2 linked regions of the Homo sapiens genome follow. The protein of the gene in region 2 interacts with the protein of the main gene of each other region in a biochemical or structural test. Each region holds a gene or a part of one and is shown on either strand. Other genes may lie near its edges.

Evidence for each region.
Region 1: of the proteins of ETV4 (region 2) and STK11, one has a biochemical effect on the other in vitro, tested with the Homo sapiens proteins (one study listed by BioGRID).

What each region holds. Positions count from the first base shown.
Region 1 is NC_000019.10:1,215,760-1,222,783, forward strand, and holds part of STK11 (serine/threonine-protein kinase STK11), read left to right. Parts: intron 1-508; exon of another isoform or gene 509-639; intron 640-2,657; coding exon 2,658-2,741; intron 2,742-3,564; coding exon 3,565-3,654; intron 3,655-4,613; coding exon 4,614-4,746; intron 4,747-4,821; coding exon 4,822-4,958; intron 4,959-5,453; coding exon 5,454-5,581; intron 5,582-6,189; coding exon 6,190-6,247; intron 6,248-7,024. UniProt on the Homo sapiens protein: Tumor suppressor serine/threonine-protein kinase that controls the activity of AMP-activated protein kinase (AMPK) family members, thereby playing a role in various processes such as cell metabolism, cell polarity, apoptosis and DNA damage response.
Region 2 is NC_000017.11:43,543,327-43,550,598, forward strand, and holds the start of ETV4 (ETS translocation variant 4), read right to left. Parts: upstream 3,015-7,272; 5' UTR 2,859-3,014; intron 2,574-2,858; exon of another isoform or gene 2,454-2,573; intron 2,343-2,453; 5' UTR 2,292-2,342; coding exon 2,232-2,291; intron 2,042-2,231; coding exon 1,948-2,041; intron 1,697-1,947; coding exon 1,649-1,696; intron 1,474-1,648; exon of another isoform or gene 836-1,473; intron 1-835.

The sequences.
Region 1 (7,024 bases), on a different chromosome or scaffold from region 2:
GGAGTCTTGCTCTGTCACCCAGGCTGGAGTGCAGTGGTGAGATCTCGACTCTCTGCAACCTCCGCCTCCCAGGTTCAAGCGATTCTCCTGCCTCAGCCTCCTGAGTAGCTGGGATTACAGGCGCCCATCACCACGCCCGGCTAATTTTTGTATTTTTAGTAGAGACAAGGTTTCACCATGTTGGCCAGGCTGGTTTCGAACTCCTGACCTCAGGTGATCCACCTCGGCCTCCCATAGTGTCGGGATTACAGGCGTGAGTCACCGCGCCTGGCCCCCCAGCTGTTTTTTATGCTCCATGCTTGGGCTTCCTGTTAAGAATTAAAAAAGAAAAAAAAAACTATGGAGATGGAATTTACATACTGTACAACTCATTCGTTCACAGTGTACAATTCAGTGGCATTAAGTACATTCACACGGCTGTGCAACCACTACTTCTAATTCCAGAACGTTCGGTCACCCCAAAAGCAAGCCCCATTCCCATTGTGTCACTCTCCATCCCCTCCACCAGCTCCTGGCCACTCTGAATCCACTTCCTGGCTCTGGATTGGCTTGTCCTGGATATTGCATAGAAATGGGATCCTGTCGGCCGGGCGCGGTGACTCACGAGAGCAAGAGATCCAGACCATCCTGGCCAACATGGTGAAACCCCATCTCTACTAAAAATACAAAAATTAGCTGGGCGTGGTTGCGGGCACCTGTAGTCCCAGCGACTCAGGGGCTGAGTCAGGAGAAATCGCTTGAACCCGGGAGGCAGAGGTTGCAGTGAGCTGAGATCATGCCATTGCACTCTGGCCTGGCGACAGAGTGAGACTCCGTCTCCAAAAAAAAAAAAACAAGAAATGGGATCCTGTCATCCCAGCGTTTTCCGAGGCCGAGGTGGGCAGATGACTTGAGCCTAGTAGTTCAAACGAGACCAGCCTGGGCAGCACGGTGAAACTGTCTCTACTAAAATACAAAAATTAGCTGGGCATGGTAGCACACGTCTGTAGTCCCAGCTACTTGCGGGGCTGAGATGGGAGGATCGCTTGAGCCTGGGAGGTGCACTCCAGCCTGGGCGACAGGGAAACCCTGTCTCAAAAAAAAAAAAAAAAGTGCATCACACACTGTGTGTCCTTTAGTGTCTCACTGTGACATCCTCAAGGTGCAGCTAGGCTGTGGCTCGAGTCAGAGCCTCACTGGTTTTTGTGGCTGAGTCTTGTTGAGTGCGTGGATGGGCTGTGCTGATCCTCGTCTGTGGAAGGGCCCCTGGGTGGTTCCACATCTCGGCTGCTGTGCGTCCTGCTGCTGTGAGCATCTCGTGCTCCGTTTCTGCGTGGCGTGTACTGTTCCTCAGGGTGTGTACCTGGGAGTGGAGCTGCTGGCTCACAGGGTAACAGACCTTTGGAGAAGCTGCAGACGCTTCCACGCCCACCCACTGGGTGTGAGGACCTTGCTCCTCGTCATTTTTGTTTTTGTTTAATTTTTTCTTTTATGAGACAGGGTCTTATTCTGTTGTCCAGGCTGGAGTGCAGTAGCACGATCACAGGTAACTACAGGCTCAAGTGATCCTCCCACCTGAGCCTCCCGAGTAGCTAGGACTTGAGGCACGTACCTCCACACCTGGCTAATTTTTGTATTTTTAGTAGAGACAGGGTTTCGCCGTGTTGCTCAGGCTGGTCTCGAACTCCTGAGCTCAGGTGATCCACCCGCCTCGGCCTCCTATAGTGCTGGGAGAAATGAAGTGTCTGCGACAGGGCGGCAGCTGCAGAGGGGGCTGTGCTCTCTGGCCTGTTGTGCCCCACCCTTGTGACAGGCAGGTGGGCGTGGCCAACTGGGCGGCAGCTGCAGAGGGGGCAGTGACAGGCGGGTGGGTGTGGCAGGACCCCACAATGTCTCTTTCTGTGGCGTCTCCTTCTTCGCCTGCCCCTTCCTATGGGCCATCCTTCCAGCTCACCTGCGGCCCACCCTCCAAGGAGTGGGACCCTCGGAGTTGGGAGCCCTTGGCTGCGTGGGACTGTACTGTGTGACGGAGCCATCACCAGGGCTCCAACTCACCCTGGCTCCTGCCACAGTCTGGGCTCCATCTGTGCTACCATTGCAGTAGTCTGGTTTCTAGGAAGCAAAACTGTTACTGAGTTACAAAGCTCAATTAAGAGTGTCCTTTGGGAGGCCGAGGCGGGCGGATCACAAGGTCAGGAGATCGAGACCATCCTGGCCAACATGGTGAAACCCTGTCTGTACTAAAATACAAAAAAATTAGCCGGCTGTGGTGACACGTGCCTGTAGTCCCAGCTACTCGGGAGGCTGAGGCAGGGAAATCACTTGAACCTGGGAGGCAGAGGTTGCAGTGAGCTGAGATCGGGCCACCGTGCTCCAGCCTAGGGACAGAGCAAGACTCTGTCTCAGAAAAAAAAAAAAGTGTCCTAACTGTGTCCTCCAAAGCCCTCGCCGGCCGATGACAGACTAGAGGGCGCTGTGCTCCCACCCCCTACCGCCCTGAGCCTGGACGCGTGGCCCCTGCAGGGCCCTTTCCCACAGCACTGTGAACTCACAGCTTCTCTCTAGGGAAGGGAGGAGGTACGCCACTTCCACAGGGAGATGGGGAGGCCGACTCCAGGGATCCAGGCCATCATCCTGACGTTGGGTCGGCTGATACACCCCTGTCCTCTCTGTCCCAGGGAAATTCAACTACTGAGGAGGTTACGGCACAAAAATGTCATCCAGCTGGTGGATGTGTTATACAACGAAGAGAAGCAGAAAATATATCCTTTCCGGTGTTGGGACCGCGGGGCCTCCGTGGGAGGGGCTGGGGCCCTGGGTCCGCCTGCCTCGAGGCCTGCTCCTCTTCCCGTCTCCTTGAAGGAGACTGGCACACGAGGGCCGTGGCCTTCCCTGGTTCCCCGGAAGTCAGCCATTGTGGCAATGGCTGCGCAGCTTGCTGAAAGGGGCCCTGAGCCCTGGCCCCTGTGTCTTGGGCCCGTGGGGTGTCAAGTCCCTTTTTTCTCAGAGTCTCCTCCCAGGCTAACCAGGGGTGTAGCCACGGTCTGCCTGAGACAGGCCACGCGGGCTGACCGTTGTGGGCCATTTTGGTCGTGGCTGGGCGTGTCCTCGTGTCATCTGTGGACACCCCCATGGGTCTTACGGGCACAGCCTCCCTACGGGGACTTTGCTTCCTAAGGCCCTGTGCCCAGAGCAAGAGCCAGAAGTGGTCCTGAGGCTGGGGCTGTGTTCCCTGAGCCACGCGGTCAGGGGCCCTGGGACCGTCCTGCATGGGCCCGAGCCTGCTTGGGGGGGCGTCCAGGAGGCACCATCCCCCGCCCATGGGCAGGGTGGGGGACGTGAGCCCCGCAGGAACGCTGCCCCAAGAGTCAGCCCTGTCCTCCCCTTCCCCGTAGGCTCCTTCCTCCTGGGACGCTGGGGCCCCTGGGCCTTTTCAGAGGGGTGGCTGAGGGCAGGGTGGGCCCTGGTCCCGAGGAGGGGCAAGGTGGGTGCAGAGGGTCCCTCCAGAGCCCCTTTTCTGGCCCCCGTGCTCCCTGGGCCTGTGAGTGGGGCCGCCCCCTGAGCTGTGTGTCCTTAGCGCCCCACGTATATGGTGATGGAGTACTGCGTGTGTGGCATGCAGGAAATGCTGGACAGCGTGCCGGAGAAGCGTTTCCCAGTGTGCCAGGCCCACGGGTGCGTGCGCGGGGCAGGGGCCAGGGTGGGGCGGGGGCCGGGGGCCAGGCAGGGCAGGCTCCTTTCCGTGAGGCCACACTGCTTGTCCTGATATTCATTGACATGAAGGCCCAAGTTTTTTTGTTTTTTTGTTTTTTTGTGTTTTTTTTCGAGATGGAGTCTCACTCTGTCGCCCAGGCTGGAGTGCAATGGTGCGATCTCGGCTCACTGCAAGCTCCGCCTCCGAGGTTCACGCCATTCTTCTGCCTCAGCTTCCCGAGTAGCTGGGATTACAGGCGCCCGCCACCACGCCCGGCTAATTTTTTGTATTTTTAGTAGAGACGGGGTTTCACCGTGTTAGCCAGGATGGTCTCAAACTCCTGACCTCGTGATCCGCCTGCCTCAGCCTCCCAAAGTGCTGGGATTACAGGCATGAGCTACCACGCCCGGCCTTGTAAAGGCCCAAGTTTTTAAAAACAGTTTTGGGGTCCCCCATGTGTGGCATCCACAGGCAGGGCTGCTGCCAACCTCCCGCCTCCATCTTTGCTGGGCCTGCTGCCTGAGGCCAGTGGCCTGCTTCCAGCCCATCGCTGGCAGCCGCCTGCCCTGACCAGATCTCCTGGATGCAGGTCTGTGGCCTCAGAGTCAGGGCCCCTTGCTGCTGCAGGACCACAGGGGCAGGGAGGGGCCTGCTGTTCCAGCAAGACTTTGGGGTGCAGCCGGCCTGTGGCCCACAGGAAAATGAGACCTGTGGACATCCGGGGCCCTGCCAGACGTGGCTCGGCCGGACGAGGGTGGCCACTGCAGGCGCAGGTGTGGCTCCCTGCTGGACCTAGCCTTTCCTCTGTCCTGTGTGCCTGGACTTCTGTGACTTCCCAGCTGGGCCTGTGGTGTTTGGGAGGCTCCCAGGCAGCTGCAAAGGGGACCCCTGTGAGGGGCAGGGAGGCCTCGGCCCCAGGACGGGTGTGTGCTGCCCGCAGGTACTTCTGTCAGCTGATTGACGGCCTGGAGTACCTGCATAGCCAGGGCATTGTGCACAAGGACATCAAGCCGGGGAACCTGCTGCTCACCACCGGTGGCACCCTCAAAATCTCCGACCTGGGCGTGGCCGAGGTAGGCACGTGCTAGGGGGGGCCCTGGGGCGCCCCCTCCCGGGCACTCCCTGAGGGCTGCACGGCACCGCCACAGGCACTGCACCCGTTCGCGGCGGACGACACCTGCCGGACCAGCCAGGGCTCCCCGGCTTTCCAGCCGCCCGAGATTGCCAACGGCCTGGACACCTTCTCCGGCTTCAAGGTGGACATCTGGTCGGCTGGGGTCACCCTGTAAGTGCCCCGCCCCCCCGGGCACTCACCACACGCACACTCCGAGGGGCCTCTGCGTCTTGGGCAGCTGCCGGCCTGTGGGCGCAGGGCGTGGCCACCGGCCCAGACCCTCTCTGGCCACAGCCGCTAGGGGGTGCTTACTTTATGGAAATGTAACTCATACGGCAGATGGTGGTTCACCCGTGTGAAGTGCAGCCTGGCCCGTCAGGGATCTTCACAGAGTGGCACGGCCGACCCTCCTCCCAGAGCCCCACAGGGAAGCTGGGCGGGTGACAGCAGCTCCAGGCCCCTTCCCCGGGTGGGTCCAGAGGACACTCCCCTCCTACCCCGTAGCCTCCACTAGTGGAAGGTGGTGAAGACAGAGGTGTCCTTGAGTCCACAGGGCCTCTGGTCCAGCAGCCACGGGACGCCTCTGTCCCTGGGGTAGAGCTGGGGCTCCTAGGGCGTCAACCACCTTGACTGACCACGCCTTTCTTCCCTCCCCTCGAAATGAAGCTACAACATCACCACGGGTCTGTACCCCTTCGAAGGGGACAACATCTACAAGTTGTTTGAGAACATCGGGAAGGGGAGCTACGCCATCCCGGGCGACTGTGGCCCCCCGCTCTCTGACCTGCTGAAAGGTGGGAGCCTCATCCCTCTGCCCGCAGCCCCAGGGAGGCGGGGCTTTTGTGCAGAAATGTAGGGTTGGGGGTGTCAGGTGGGGGGCTATTGGCCCCGAGACCCCAGCAGGCATTGAGAGGACTGAGTGGAGAGGCCGACCTCCCCGCAGGGCCTGGTTTGCCAGGTCCCTCAGCTCCACCCTGCTTCTGGGCCCTGTTCACCCTCCGAACTCCCACCCCAGAGGGCAGTGCTGCCCTGCGCCTCCCCCAGCCCCACCCTCGGGGGCTCCCTGGCTTGCAGGGTCTGTCAGGGTTGTCCTGCTGCACTTCCTACGCATGGCAGCAGGTGGCACTGGCCGTCCGTCCATCTGCCCAGTGGCCTTGGGAGAACGGAACCGCCCTGGCCGTCCAGCCCAGCCCTGTCTCCCTGCCAGCCGCGCACAGGCTGTCCCCGGCATGTCCCAGGAGTGGAGTGGCCTCTGTCAGGGAGACCGCCTGTGCGCGGGGTCCCCCTTAGGAGCGTCCAGGTATCACCCAGGGCCTGACAACAGAGGCTGGGCAGGCGGGGACGGTTGGTGGGGTCTCAGGCCTGTGCCCAGCTGACAGGCTCCTCGCCGGCTTCTCCTCAGGGATGCTTGAGTACGAACCGGCCAAGAGGTTCTCCATCCGGCAGATCCGGCAGCACAGGTGAGCGGCCCCTGGGGGCAGTGGGGCCGAGGCTGCAGGGAGGCCGGCCATGTGGGCAGCTGGTTGAGCGGGCGCTAGAGCAGGGCGTGGTGGGGGTGCCAGGCTGGGCTGGGGCCAGACCCCGTGCAGCGCCCGCAGTTCTCGGGGCCCGAGTGGGGTCTCTGGGCAGTGTCCTGTTACCGGCCAGACCCAGGCGCCTTGTCCGAACTGGGGTCTGAGTGAGGACATGCGTCCGTCCCTGCCCTAGGCATGGAGATGCGCCAGGAAGGGCACAGCTGGTCCCAAACACTGGCGAGAGCCTCTCTTTTTCCCCTCCTCCTGGGGCTCCCAGCAGCAGGGTGTGGCTGGGATCCAGCCCAGGGCCCCCAGCTCCATGACAGGGAAGACAGAGCAGCGGACGGGGTCAGCAGGCCCCACAGTGCCGCCTCCCTCACTTCGTGGGCTCTGCTCCTCTGCACCAGCCCCTGGAGGCCCTTGAGCCGTCTGCTGGAGCCCCTCCGAGCCCCGAGGCCACCCACTGAGACCGGCTCTGGGAGTGGGAGTGTCCGGACCCCTGAGGCGCTGGTGCTGATTGTGCCTTGGGGGTCTCTGCACAGCTCGGGTCATCTGGGCGCCTGGCGGGGACTGGGGCTGCCCCCCGATAGCCTCCTGGGCTGGGATGTGCTCAGGGCCCCCCAGACCCCCTTCTGGCCTTTGCTGGCTTTGCAGCCAGCATCCATCTGGTGGGTGCTGGCTTCTGAGTGCCACCTGGGACACAGGCCTCAGGGTGGAGGGGAC
Region 2 (7,272 bases):
GACACAGACAGACATTTGTACCCTCTCCAGACCCCTGGCCAAGGGGTGGGACTTCCAAGGTAGAGAGATGAGAGCATTTTCCTCCCCCTCCCATCTCAAACCCAGGCACAGATGGACCAGCTGCTGCCAAAATGCCAACCTCAGCCCACCCCTAGCTCACAGCCCTAGGAGCTGCCCACTGTGGGGACTCTCAGCTGACAGGCAAGGAATGAAGCCCGGTGAGCCAGAGAGAAATCAGGCACTGGGAAAGGAAGTCTTTGAGAGCCCACGGAAACTGACACCTCTGCATTCTTCAGCTCTAGCCCAGCTCCAGAACCTCAGAAGAAGGATGGGGAGACGGGGCAAAGCTCTGCCTGTAAATTGGAGCTGGGCATGCAGGACTTGCAGGGTCGGGGATGATGCACACAATACCCTCAGAACCTCCAGATCCCTCCAGCACTCACACAGCCATTCAGCCATTATTTCCACAAAATGTCTTGAGTGCTTGCTCTATGCTAAATAGTCATTCTGTCAACATATATATTTTTAGAATATCATAGTGGGCAAGACAGACCTAGTCTCACTCCAAGGATCTAGTCAGGGGTCATTTTCTTTTTACTCCGAGCTTCTATGGAGAGTTCCAGGGTAGTTGGATTTGAGCTTTAAAAAAATTAGATACCCAGGGTGGAGGGATGAGGAGATCCTAAGGAAAATACCTCAAAAAGACCTCAAAAAAGGAGTTCCTAGTGTTTTGGCTTCTTCATTTTCATAGTGTTAAAATAAACCCTAAGATGGGGGTAGTTAACCCTTCCCTCTCAGAGACTGTCTAAACCACCATTTTCCCTCCCACCTGCAGCCCCACCAGCGACACCCTCAGGCCCCACCAAAACGCACTGAAGAATCCAACCAGGAAACCTCCTGAACACACCACTTCCCCATCAGACCCAGCCACGGACCCAGCCACGGACCCCACCCCAGCCAGCTCACAGCTAACTCCCCAGCACACAGGAAGGGGGGAATTTGCCTGGAGGCAGAGGTATTCAAGCGGGATGGAAGAGGGAGGAACACTTGCTATTAGAATTACAATCAAGGCTATTTGGGGAGGGAGCCCTGGGCTCTCTGTGCCAAAGGACTGCCGAAAAGAATTATTTAAACTTTTGTTGTTCTTTTGGCTTGGACAGTAAATTGTTTGGTGCTGGGGGTTGGGAAGAAGAGAAACCCAGGGGATAAGAATCAATGCTTGGGCAACTCTGGAGGATGAGTGACAAATTAATTTCTCCCCCCACCCCCCACCAACAACACCCCAACATGCACCTTGGCCTGGCGGCTTCTGCAAAACAAACTTTACAAATGAAAATTTCAACCAGGAAAATGGGCCTGGGGCCAAGTTCCATTCAAATAAGCAAATACCCCACACAATGGTCTGATTCATCCTCAAGCCTAGTTACACAAGCCTGGCTCAGGGTAGAGAAAATAAATATCAATATAAGTGTCCACGCTGGGTGCTGGGGTGAGTAGAGTGGCAAGGGACCTGGGGAGAGGGCCTTGGAGAACTCCTTGAGGCAGGGAAGGGAGAGGAGAAGTGTAGGGCTTAGGGTGGAATACCAGGGGCTACGGAGTGTCCCCCTGTCCAGCCTCCCAAAATAGAAAAGGTCACAAAACTACTCACCTTCAGCGAGCCACGTCTCCTGGAAGTGACTTAGATCCTGGAAGAGATCTGAGGGGTAAATAGTGGAATTGGAGGTGAGGTGGAGGGGACGGTAAGAGAGAAGGGGCCCTAGCAAGACCCGGTGACTCCCCTGCCTTGGGAGTAGGGACCGAGAAGAATGACCAAAATCCCTTGGAGGGCGAGTTTTTTGGGGAAACAGGCGGGGGTTCCAGAATCGGCCGTGTGTGTGTGTGTGTGTGTGTGTGTGTGTGTGTGTGTGTGGCGGAGGAGGGTCGCGGTTTGTCTCTCTTGCTCTTTACCTTCAGAGTCGAGGGGCGGCAGGGAGCCCGGGTCCATGAGCTTCCCCAGCGGGCCGATCAGCGCTTCGCGCAAGCTCCCATTTCCGGGCGATTTCTGCGAGAAGCGGGGAGAATGCCCGCGAGTCACCCTGAGGCGCTTAGTCTGGGGGACGAGGTTGGGGTCCTCGGGTGACTCAGGGGCGGGGCAGCCCAGGACTCCGCTGGGACTGCGGGGAGGGGGGCTGTGGTGAGAGTAGGGGCTGGGTGCGGGGCGGGGCGGGCGTGGAGGCCGGCGCGGCGCTCACGCTGCTGAAGGTGTAGGGCACTTGCTGGTCCAAGTATCCGGCTTTCATCCTCCGCTCCATCCGGCCGCTCCCTCCGGCCGCACGGCCGGGGCCCCAAGCGGGGGCCGAGACCTGGTGGGGGAGGGGGCTGCGTTCGCACACCGTCCAGGGAGGGCTGCGATGGGGGCGGGGAGGGGGCAGTCCCAAGGCTCTGGGTCCGACGGCGAAACTTCTCCGACTCACTGGGGCGATGGCGAGGTTTCCGCCTGCCAGGCCGAGCGCCACCACCACTCCCCTCCCGCCAAAGGCCAAAGGAGGTCCCACCTGCTCCCAGGAGCCGGGCTCGCCGTTTCTGCTTTCTGCAGCCCTGCTTTACCCGGGCTCGGTTACATAAGAACGTGTGTGTGTGTGTGTGTGTGTGTGTGTGTGTGTGTGTGTGTGTGTACGCGCGCGCGCGCGGAGGAGCAGGCGAAGCGCACACCATCGCATGCCCACAACTCCCGCGCCCCCTCCAACCCTGAATCCCAGCACCTCCCACCCCCGCCCTGGAATCTGCGGAGGCGGGTGGTGAGAGTGAGTGTGGTGTGCATTGGAGGCGAGGCGGGGAATCACAGACACTCTCCCTCCCTTTCCCTCCCGCAGCCTCACCTGAGGCCGGGGCGTCTGGGCTGGAGCCGCGGGGGGTCCCGAGCATGCCCTGGAGCCCGCACCGAGGGCCGCGGGGCTAGGCCGGAGTAAGGCGGCCCCGGCCCCGGGTCCCCAGCGCACCGACTTGTTTTTCGGGCGCAGCAGACAGTTGTGAGCCCGGGGGAGCAGCTGATTGGTGCATTTCCTTCGCTCGGCCTCAGCTCTCCACCCCCCGCCCCGCCACACCGCCCCCCGTTTCCCTTTGTTTCATTGACTTTTGTGAATGGAACCCCAGGGCTGGGCACGCCCGCCAATCCGGAGAGTCGTCCGGCCTGGCCGGGGGGCGGAGTTTCCCAGCCGCGGGGGCCAATCAGAATGTAGGGGTTGGCTCCCGGCTTCATTCAGTGCTCCGGCTCCCATTCATAAAAAAATAAAACTCGCGGCTGGAGTTCATTCATAAAGAACCGAGAGAAAAAGAGAGAAGCCGAGGACCCCGCGGCTTCTTCACCGTCTCGCCACGGTCTTGGGTCTGATGCGCCGCGTGCTCCTCCGGCTGGCGTCTGCACACGTCTCTGCATCTGCGTGTACGTGGGAGTATGAACATGTCTGTGTGCGCCCAGGAGGGAGGCGACCGGGCTTGTGTGCCCAGAGGAACAATAATAACTAGCATTTATGAAGCGCTCCGCTTCCACGTGCTCATTTCGTTCCCATAACCCGGCGAAATGGATCGTTTGTATCTTACAGATATTAAAAATGAAACTCAGAGAGGGATGGTAACTCTCCTGAGGTCACTCAGCTAGTCAGCACCTCTGGGGTTTACAGCCTCAAATCCCTCACACTCTCCTGTACACCCCTCTGAAGCCATGATTAAATGAGTTAAGCTATGTGACAACTGATACACAGTAGGTGATCAATAAATGTAAACTGGCACAGAATCCAGGCTTTTCCTCAAGGGTCTGTTCTCTGCAGAGCTGTTTTGTGACCCACTTTCTACTGATTGCAGCAGAAACCAGAAGCCCCAGGGTAGATGATTTCCGAAAGTGTAGCTCCCTCTCAGCCATCTTCCCTCTTATCTGAGAGCCAGCAAAAGGAGCAAAAGCCCCAAAGGTTCTGATGATCTGGAGGCAGGATGGGTTTCAGTTTTAGCTAAGAAGCTGGTCATAGTCTCTGTCATCTCATCCATTCACCACTTCTTTCAATAAACATTTATCGTGTCAGATACAGTGCTGGGTTCCAGGCAAGCAGCTATGTCCAAGACAGACATCTGAGGGGACCTGGGGTGCTTGGGCTGTGGCCATGGGGGCACAAAGGACATGAATCCTCAAAGGCCTTTTTGCTGAGACAATTCTCTATGTCTCCAGCCTATGCACTCCTTTGAGGACAGCCTGATTTTTTATCCTGCCTGTTTGTGATAAACACAAAAGAATGTTCAAATGCCAGGCCAGCAGGAGTGGCTTCCCAAATTCATCTAACCTAACACCCGCCACTTTACAGATGAGGCAGTGGAGTTTCAGAGAAGGAAATGACACATGTAAGCTCTTTGGGCCTGTCTGGCCAGAACTAAGGCTAAAACATACAATTGCTGTTTAGTGTTCATAAGGGCTCATTCCATGAGATCTGCTTGTGCAAATGGAAGTAAACTTCCCTTTCTATAGGTGCTGTAATATTCTATAAGGCTCATGTCTATTGTCCCTCTCCTCCAGGAAGCCTTCCATGATAGCCTGAATCAGTTCCTTTAGCCATATACAACATTCTTGACTATATCTCTGGTGTGGATGTTTTTCATCCTGCCTCATGGTATAGACATCCTTATCTATGGAGAGCTCTCCAGAGCTCATTTGCCTCTGAAAGTCCTCCTCAGCCTGTTAGCATGCTTATGAGGGTGGCATGAAATGCTTGTGTAGTGAATAGGTACAATAAAGACCAAATTAATTGAGCTTAGCAGGAACCCTGCCCAAGGAAGGAGAAACAAGCCCAAGCAAATCCCAGCTTTGGGCTGGATGGAACCAGTTTAGAGACAAGTGTGAGTTCTGGCCAAGAGAAGTGGAGAGGAGGACAGAGGGCTCTTCCTGGAAGGCAGCTTTGATGTGGTCTCCATGACAACGAAGAAGAGTCCAGTAGGTCTTTAAGTTGGTACTGGGCACTTCAGTAGGATGGGACCTCTCTAGGGATGCCAGTGCCCCTCTGGTTCTGAGTTTTTTTGTTTTTGTTTTTGAGACAGAGTTTCACTCTTGTTGCCCACACTGGAGTGCAAAGGTGCAATCTCGGCTCACTGCAACCTCCGCCTCCCGGGTTCAAGCGATTCTCCTGCCTCAGCCTCCCGAGCAGCTGGGATTACAGGTGCCCGCCACCATACCTGGCTAATTTTTTGTATTTTTAATACAGACGGAGTTTCACCATGTTGGTCAGGCTGGTCTCAAACTCCTGACCTCAGGTGATCCACTTGGCTTCCTAAAGTGCTGGGATTACAGGCATGAGCCACCAAGCCCAGCCTTTTTTTTTTTTTTTTTTTTTTTGAGAGACAGGAGGGTCTCCCTCTGTCACCCAGGTTGGAGTACAGTGGTGCCATCATAGCTTACTATAACCTCAAACTCCTGGCTTCAAGCTATCCTCCCACCTCAGCCTCCCAAGCAGCTGGGACTACAGGCATGCACTATCATGCCTGGCTAATGTGTTTGTTCATTTGTTTGTTTGTTTTTGTAGAGACAGGGTCTCACTATGTTGCCCAGGCTGCAGGTTCTGAGTTCTTATATTCTTCTGGAGGGCCCCTGGCTCCCTGGTGAGTAAGTGCCCCCTCCACATTCCCAATCCTCTCCAGCCCTGGCAGAGGCTGAGTGGCCTTCCTCCCTCAGGCTAAGAGAAGATACTGCTGCTGTCACTGACCTCTGATTGAATGTCCAGGCTCAAAACAGTGATATTTCCAAGGGGAACATTAGCCTCTTACACCACTGGAAGTAGTTGGTGGGGAGGGTATAGAGGGGCTGGAATTTCTGTTGGGAATCGAGTCACAATAACCGACATGTACAGCCATGCCCTGCTGTAAGTGCATGACCTGCATTAACTCAGGCAACCTCATAACGATCCTGTGAGGTAAGTATTAGGATTTTCATTACCATTTTACAAATGAGGAAACAGAGCCCTCACAAACACACATCTACCCCAAGGCCCCCCACAACAGACTGAGGACCACCCCAAATGGACTCACAGGCATGCAGACACTTTGAACTCACAGACTCACAGGCATGCAGACACAACAGGCCAGATGGAGGCCACACCTGAGCCAGAGATACACAGGAACACTCTTGGATGCAGGACGCTCACAGTCCCCTCCTGGACACACAGCTTCGTGGACACATGCAGCGTACTCCCTGACACCCTCCAGCACATCTTTGGTGGGGGTTGCACAGGTAAATGCTTCTTTCCCGGCTACGCTAGTAGATTGGGGGCTGAGCTCTGACCTGTTTCCCAGGAGCCTAAGTTATAAAATGTAAATGTGAGGCTTTGATATGCAAATGTTCATATAAAGGCAGGCTGTGGCTTGCTCAGGAGACTGGAATATCAGAGCACTGTGATGAGTAGGGAGAGGAAGCTATAGATTCATCTGGATCAGACATCAAGGTGGCTCAGGAGCCATCAGAGAAGCAGGCTTTCCCCAGGGCAGGTTTCAAAGAATGAGCGGCATAGGGCTGGATTTGGTTCTCTGGGTTGGGTTAGCTGGGGACATCCTGTGGGTGACCTATGCCATGTGACTGTGAGAGAAGGATGGAAGTATCCTCAAGGCCTAGCTTCCTCATGGTCTGGAAGAGCTGAGTTCCAGAGCCTTAAAGGGTGGAATCCAGTGGGGTAACCTTGGGAGACAGCTCTGCAAGGTCAGATGGATGAGATAAATAGGGTCAAGTAATGTCCTATGTCCCTTTAGTGTCTCCCAGACTGGAGACACTAGAGGAATGAACCAGACAGAGGGGTCAGGTGGTGGGGATGAAAGATGGGGAGCCTGCGGTCCTCCCCATGGGCTGGTGGGTCAGGATGACCAAAACATGCCACTCTTTGACTTCCTTTTGTCTTGTGTCATTGTCCCCTTTTCACATTGCTTCCTCTAAATTACAGGGCTTCTGGATGATGGGTACGTGGATATGTACCCCTGAAATTAACTGCCTGCACCAAGATGCCTGGTGCACATTTTTCTTTTTCTTATGTATTTATTATTTTAATGTTATAGAACTAAGCAGATTTTTTTTTTGTGGAGGAGGTGCAGGGACAAGTTGTCACTATGTCACCCAGGCTGGAGTGCAGTGGAACGATCATGTCTCATTTGCTGCAGCCTCGACCTCTTGGGCTCAAGCGATTCTCCCTCCTCAGCCTCCTGAATAGCTAGGCCTACAGGTGCTCGCCACCACGACTGGCTAATTTTTAAATTTTTTGTAGAGATGGGGTC